Linked DNA regions of Homo sapiens: region 1 is linked to region 2. The links come from fine-mapping of genetic effects on gene expression. A gene starts in region 2. The other region holds a variant in brackets. All regions are shown on one strand. Distances are from middle to middle.

The links.
Region 1: its variant is fine-mapped to the expression of RNF214 in regulatory T cells (Schmiedel 2018, PIP 0.95).

Annotation. Positions count from the first base shown.
Region 1 is chr11:117,279,082-117,281,989 of GRCh38, forward strand. RNF214 (ring finger protein 214) reads left to right here. Exons shown (of 15, transcript NM_207343.4): 7 at 827-923; 8 at 1,090-1,178; 9 at 2,233-2,323; 10 at 2,519-2,617; 11 at 2,813-2,908. Among named protein-coding and RNA genes, the nearest start is that of BACE1, 36 kb to the right of the region's middle. The variant A/AGTTT (reference allele first, on the strand shown) is at 1,217.
Region 2 is chr11:117,231,412-117,234,319 of GRCh38, forward strand. RNF214 (ring finger protein 214) reads left to right here and starts at 1,260. Exons shown (of 15, transcript NM_207343.4): 1 at 1,260-1,315; 2 at 2,856-2,908. The coding sequence starts at 2,862. PCSK7 (proprotein convertase subtilisin/kexin type 7) reads right to left here and starts at 662. Exons shown (of 17, transcript NM_004716.4): 1 at 616-662. RefSeq lists an enhancer at 460-509 and silencers at 700-849, 1,060-1,399.

The DNA.
Region 1 (2,908 bases), 48 kb after region 2:
GTAAGACCCTGTCTATAAAAAACAAACAAACAAAAAAGTGGACCCCTGTGTTTGGTCCTGCATTCATTCTTCAGGACCCATACTAAAAGACATGTTGGGAAATAAGAATGCAGAATGCCATAATGGTTTTGAATCCTCTTGAACGTAGAAGAATGTTCTGCCTTCAATGGAGGGCTTTTGTTCTAAGATGCAGTCTTTTTCCTGCTGTAGGTAACTTTATTTTAGCAAGTGGAGATACAAACTTTTTTTTTTTTTTTTTTTTTTTTTTGAGACAGAGTCTCGCTTTGTAGCCTAGGCTGGAGTGCAGTGGTGCAATCTCGGCTCACTGCAACCTGCGCCTCCCAGGTTCAAGCAATTATCTTGCCTCACCCTTCTGAGTAGCTGGGACTAGGCGACAGGCGTGCGCCATCACGCCCAGCTAATTTTTGTATTTTTAGTAGAGATGGGGTTTCACCACGCTGGCCAGACTGGTCTCAAACTCCTGATTTCAAGTGATCTGCCCATCTTGGACTTCCAAAGTGCTGGGATTACAGGCGTCAGCCACCACGCCCGGTCACAACGTTTTTACTTTCAAATATAGGGCCATTATGCAACTGCAGACCACTGTAAACATTATTTGTCTGTATCTATATTTGATACTTATACTCCAGCTCTCTTTTGATTAGCAAAGAATAAAGAAGAAAGAAAAATAAGTATAGTTAATACTTAGAGTAAGACTTCCTGTAACATACTTGGCTGACCAATTTTGGGTTGTACTTTTGCCCTGGTATCTCTCAACAAGCTTATCTTTCTTCCTTAGTCTTGTTCTTGGTTTCTTATCTTACAGAGAGGTGTGGGAAATGGAACTGGATAGACTCAAGAATCAGGATGGCGAAATAAATAGGAACATTATGGAAGAGACTGAACGGGCCTGGAAGGCAGAGGTGAGAAGAGGAGCTGATATCTTGAAAGTCTTAGTTTCAGGCTTCCAGATGGTATCTACTTTTGGCATTGTAATAGGAGAGCCAGTAAGCATTTGTTTTCACTACCTAGAGGTACCTTTGTGTATGTAAAATTAATAAAGTATTTATATGTGTGTGGCTTCCTTAGATCTTATCACTAGAGAGCCGGAAAGAGTTACTGGTACTGAAACTAGAAGAAGCAGAAAAAGAGGCAGAATTGCACCTTACTTACCTCAAGTAAGTACCTTTCCGTTCTAGAGCTTTAATTGTTTTGC[A/AGTTT]GTTTGTTTGTTTGTTTGTTTAGGTTTTTTCATTCCTAGGCCAGCTAGTCTGGCACTTATTCTATCTGCACAGGAATTGTAAGGCTATCTCTGTCTGCAGTAGCAATTGCTCAGTGGTTTTTCCTCTCACATTCTAAAGTTCTGTACTGTAACTCTTCCCTGCTACAGTTTTATAGTTTTGCATTTTTTAATGTTTTGTTTCCATTTGGATAAACACTATCTGTTAAAGCCAGACGTAATAGCATGCTCCTGTAATCCCAGCACTTTGGGAGGTCGAGGCAGGAGGATCACTTGTGCCCAGGAGGCCGAGGCTGCAGTGAGCTTTGATGGCATCACTGCACTCCAGCCTAGGTGACAGTGAGACCCTGTCTCTAAAAAATAAAAAATAACCAGCATCTGTTAACCTATAAAGCATAACAATGATCTTTGGAGATTCATTTCCTATGTAGTCATTTATTTTCTTTCTGCCATGGAACTTGGAGGACCCTTGTGGCATTTTCAGGCAGACAAGAACCCTCTCTCTGTTGTTGGTTCTCTTTCTCAATTACTTAAAAGATACTGGAGTTAAAGTGAGGCAAAGGAATTCGAATCTTGGGCTTCTCCTGCACCTGCTCCCACCTCTTCTCAACGGCAATTAGCCAGCTACTATTTTGCTTTTGCTATCTCAGAGAATTAGGAATAGGGCTTTTTTTTTTTTTTTTTTTTTAATGACAGGGTCTCCCTCTGTTGTGCAGTGGTGCCATCTTGGCTCACTGCAACCTCCATCTCCTGAGCACAAGCCATCCTCCTACCTCAGCCTGCCAAGTAGCTGGGACTATAGGCGTGAGCCACCACACCTGGCTAATTTTGCATTTTTTTAAGAGACAGGGTTTAGCCACATTGCCCAGGCTGGTCTAGAACTCCTGAGCTCAAGTGATCTGCCCGCCTTGGCCTCTTGTGCTGGGATTACAGGCGTGAGTCACTGTTCCTAGCAGGGCTTTCTTTAAATCTGTAAATTCCTGTTGGTTTCTTGAAAGGTCAACTCCCCCAACACTGGAGACAGTTCGTTCCAAACAGGAGTGGGAGACGAGACTGAATGGAGTTCGGATAATGAAAAAGAATGTTCGTGTAAGTGTATCTATGAGTCATCATTCAGTCAGTGTTAGTCTGTGCTTAACACTTCCAGCAATTGGGAGGTAGCCTTTTGCATTGCCATTTGGGGCCTATCCTACTATTCCTTTTGTTTTCCTGATAATGGATGGTGCTGTCTTTCTAGAGAGCCTGAGTCAGTTCAGCAGTAAAAATAATCCTTTTTTTTTTTAGGACCAATTTAATAGTCATATCCAGTTAGTGAGGAACGGAGCCAAGCTGAGCAGCCTTCCTCAAATCCCTACTCCCACTTTACCTCCACCCCCATCAGAGGTAAGAGAGTGGCTTTGGGGGGAAGTTCACCTTTCTGTGTTGGTAGCAGCAGCAGAGTCTTCTGCGTGTTCTTTTTATGAAGATATTGGGACCATCCCTATTCAGTGCAAGAGTTGTTCATTGATGTCTTCTCCAGTTTCCTAAACTTTCTTTTTCTTCCTTTCTCTCTCGTCCTCTACCTCTTCTCCTCTGCAGACAGACTTCATGCTTCAGGTGTTTCAACCCAGTCCCTCTCTGGCTCCTCGGATGCCCTTCTCCATTGGGCAGGTCACAATGCCCATGGTTATGCCC
Region 2 (2,908 bases):
GGTGTCTTCCCCAGTCTGCATACTCTACTAAGTAAACAAACTAACAAACAAAACCCTTGTTAGCCAGACAGTGGCCCCGCTAGGCAGACTCCTTCAGACTCAGTAGATCCCACCACAGATGTCAGGAAGAAAGAGAAGCAGGAGCTCCTTCTGTCTACTAGTGGCAAAGCAGCATTTTTATCCCCCAGGCTTCTGGGAAAGGAACCTTAAATGCCTTCTGAAAGCAGGTCTCAACCTCTCCCAACGGCTAGGCCTCCCTTTACAGCTCTTAATTGACAAGGAAGAAGAGAATGGGCAGCCTGGAGTCCAAGATCCTGCTCCCAAGCTACTGTCCTCGCTGTTCCACACCCGGCTCCTAGAAGCCAGCTTGGGTACCGGGTCAGTTTCCCGATTCTCCCTCCGTCGGCCTCGATCGCTCCGTGCAATGTGCCCCTCTCCTCATTAGCACCCACATTATCCAGGAATTCTGGGCCCTGGGGCCCCATCTCCTTGGTCCCCCACGCCAGGACCTCAGGCACCCTCTGTGCAGCTCCCTCATCCTCAGACGCCGGCTTCCCCCACTTCTGGGGCCCCCTGACCACCCAGGTCCAGCCCCACACCTAGTTCCCAACTCACCGGCCCCGCCGCAGCTGCCGCCGCCTCCCTGCGGAAACTCGCGGCTTCCCGGGAGCCGGAGGAGCAGTGACAGCAGCATCACTTCCGCCCGCGGCGCAGCCAATCAGCGCGGCGCCTGCGGCCCGGCGACCCCCGCGGGCCACAGCAACCGGCGCCCGGGGTCCGGCTCCCGCGGGCGGCCTACGCAGGCAGGGGCCGTGCGGGCGCTGGGGGCTGAACCCGCGGGCTCCGCCTCCCCGAGTCCTCGGGGCATCTTCCACATGGTCCCTCTTCAGAAGGCTCTCCTTCATGGCGTCCTCTGTAAAGGGCATTTCGGTTCCGACCTTTAAAAGCCACTCGTTGCTCTTCTCCTTCTGACCGCCATGGCCCCGACTGTCCCTGTAATCTTCCCAGAGGGGATCCTGCCCACCCAGGTCGCCTTCCTTCTCGCAGTCGGCTCTCCCTTCTTCCCCGCGCCCCGGGAGAGTCCACTTGTATCTCAGGGGTCTCCCGCAGCATCCCCGTGCCCCGGCGGCGCCAGCTGTCGCCGCCAGAGGGCGCCGTCGGGGGCGGCGCGGCGCCACCGCGGCCTCTCCTCTCGCGGCCGGAGCCTCGCCCCCTCCGCTCGTGCCGCCGGAAGTGGGAGGTGCCGCGCGCGGGCCGGCGCTCGACCCCTCCCCCCGTGGCTCGGCCGCCCCCTCCCCCCGCTCCGCCCGCTCAGGTGCGTCCCGTCCCTCCCCCACTTTCCTCCCGGGGGCGCGGCGCGGGAGGTGTGTGCGGGGCGAGCGTGGGTGGGGGTTGCGGGGCGAGGGCCGGGCATGGGGGTCGGGTGGGGGGCGTGGAGGGTGCTGTGAGAACCGAGGCGGGGGTCCCGGCCTAGAAGTGGGACGGGGGGGTGGCTGGCAGCGGGGTGGGGGGACCGAGGGGAAGGGGTGGAGGGGGGTCTGGTCCGAGCCAGCGGCCAGCCTAGCAGTCCCCTGTGGGGGGTGGCCAAGGCCACCCAGCGCCGCTTCCCCCCATTGTCCCCTTCCCGTCTGTCCCCTGTTCTCGCCCGAGGACCCGTGGCTCCGGCGCCCCTGCTTCGCTGGTGGTCGCCCCGGGTTGCGGAGTTCTTTTTGGTACACTCGACCCTCCAGCCAGCTGTTCCTACCCGCGCCACGGGCTCTCTAGCCACGGAGTTGCATGCATGGCCCTTGTCCTGGGGTTTCGTTCACCGGGCGCAGAGGACCCCCCAGCCCTGGGCTATGTTGGAGACGGGATGTTTGCACCTGAGGGAGCAGCAATGGCGGTTTGGGCCCATTTTCTCCCAGGAGCTTTGTATAATGAGGGAAACTGAGGCACAGAGGGTCTGTGGGCTGTGACTGAGGTGTTGACACAGCCCCATCTACCTATCTGCCCTATGCGCTCTTCAGTGTTCCGGGGGGGAATACGTGTGATGCTGTTAAAATAAAAGCAAGAATGCAAACTAACCCGATGTTCATCCCCACCTCCCAAGTATTTTGATTTTCTTTTCTCCTCATAAGGTCATAAGTTTGCTCTGCGGCATAAAAGATGACCTTTTGATTTTTAAAAAAGGCGTCCGTCCCAGTTCCCTTACTTGTGTTACCATGTTTTTTACCTTGACTTTTTCACGCTAGAGAACCCAGGATTCTTTTTTGCACCACTAGTCACTCTGAAGAGTCTGTTCTTTGCTCAGTTAGTGGGTATCAGGCCTTTCCCATCTGTGGGGAGCACGCTGACAGTAAAATATGCACCCTGGATTGCCCAGTATTGCATTACTTGTTGACTTACAGGCAGACACCTCCAAAAACTTCCCTTAAATTAATGGAGAATGCTTTGAATGTAACAGCCATAAAGTGATTTAAAAACATGAGATCTGATTGATACTAGGCCGAAAAGTACGTCTTTTATTAAAAATGATAGCAGACAAGGTAGGCCTGGGACCACTTGGAAGATCCTGGCAGACTAAGATGTATTGTTTGAAATGACTACATTTCTGCCAAAAGTGAAAATAAGATCTTTGCACAGACTCCTAGATATTTATGTAAATACAGTGACTCCTGAGGATTGCTGCCCACTAGGACACTAGGACTTTGCATACAATGTCTCTTTTAGTACTCTTAAGTATTTTCTCCCGGAGCCCAGGTTTTTGTGTTTCTTTACTGCGACAGCTCTGTTGTGTGGACATTCTGAGGGGGGAGAGATACATTTGTTTTAAACTTTGGAAACTTGTAGCCTGTAATTTGTTTCTGAATGTACAGAGCATAATGGCAGCGTCTGAGGTTGCTGGTGTTGTGGCCAATGCCCCCAGTCC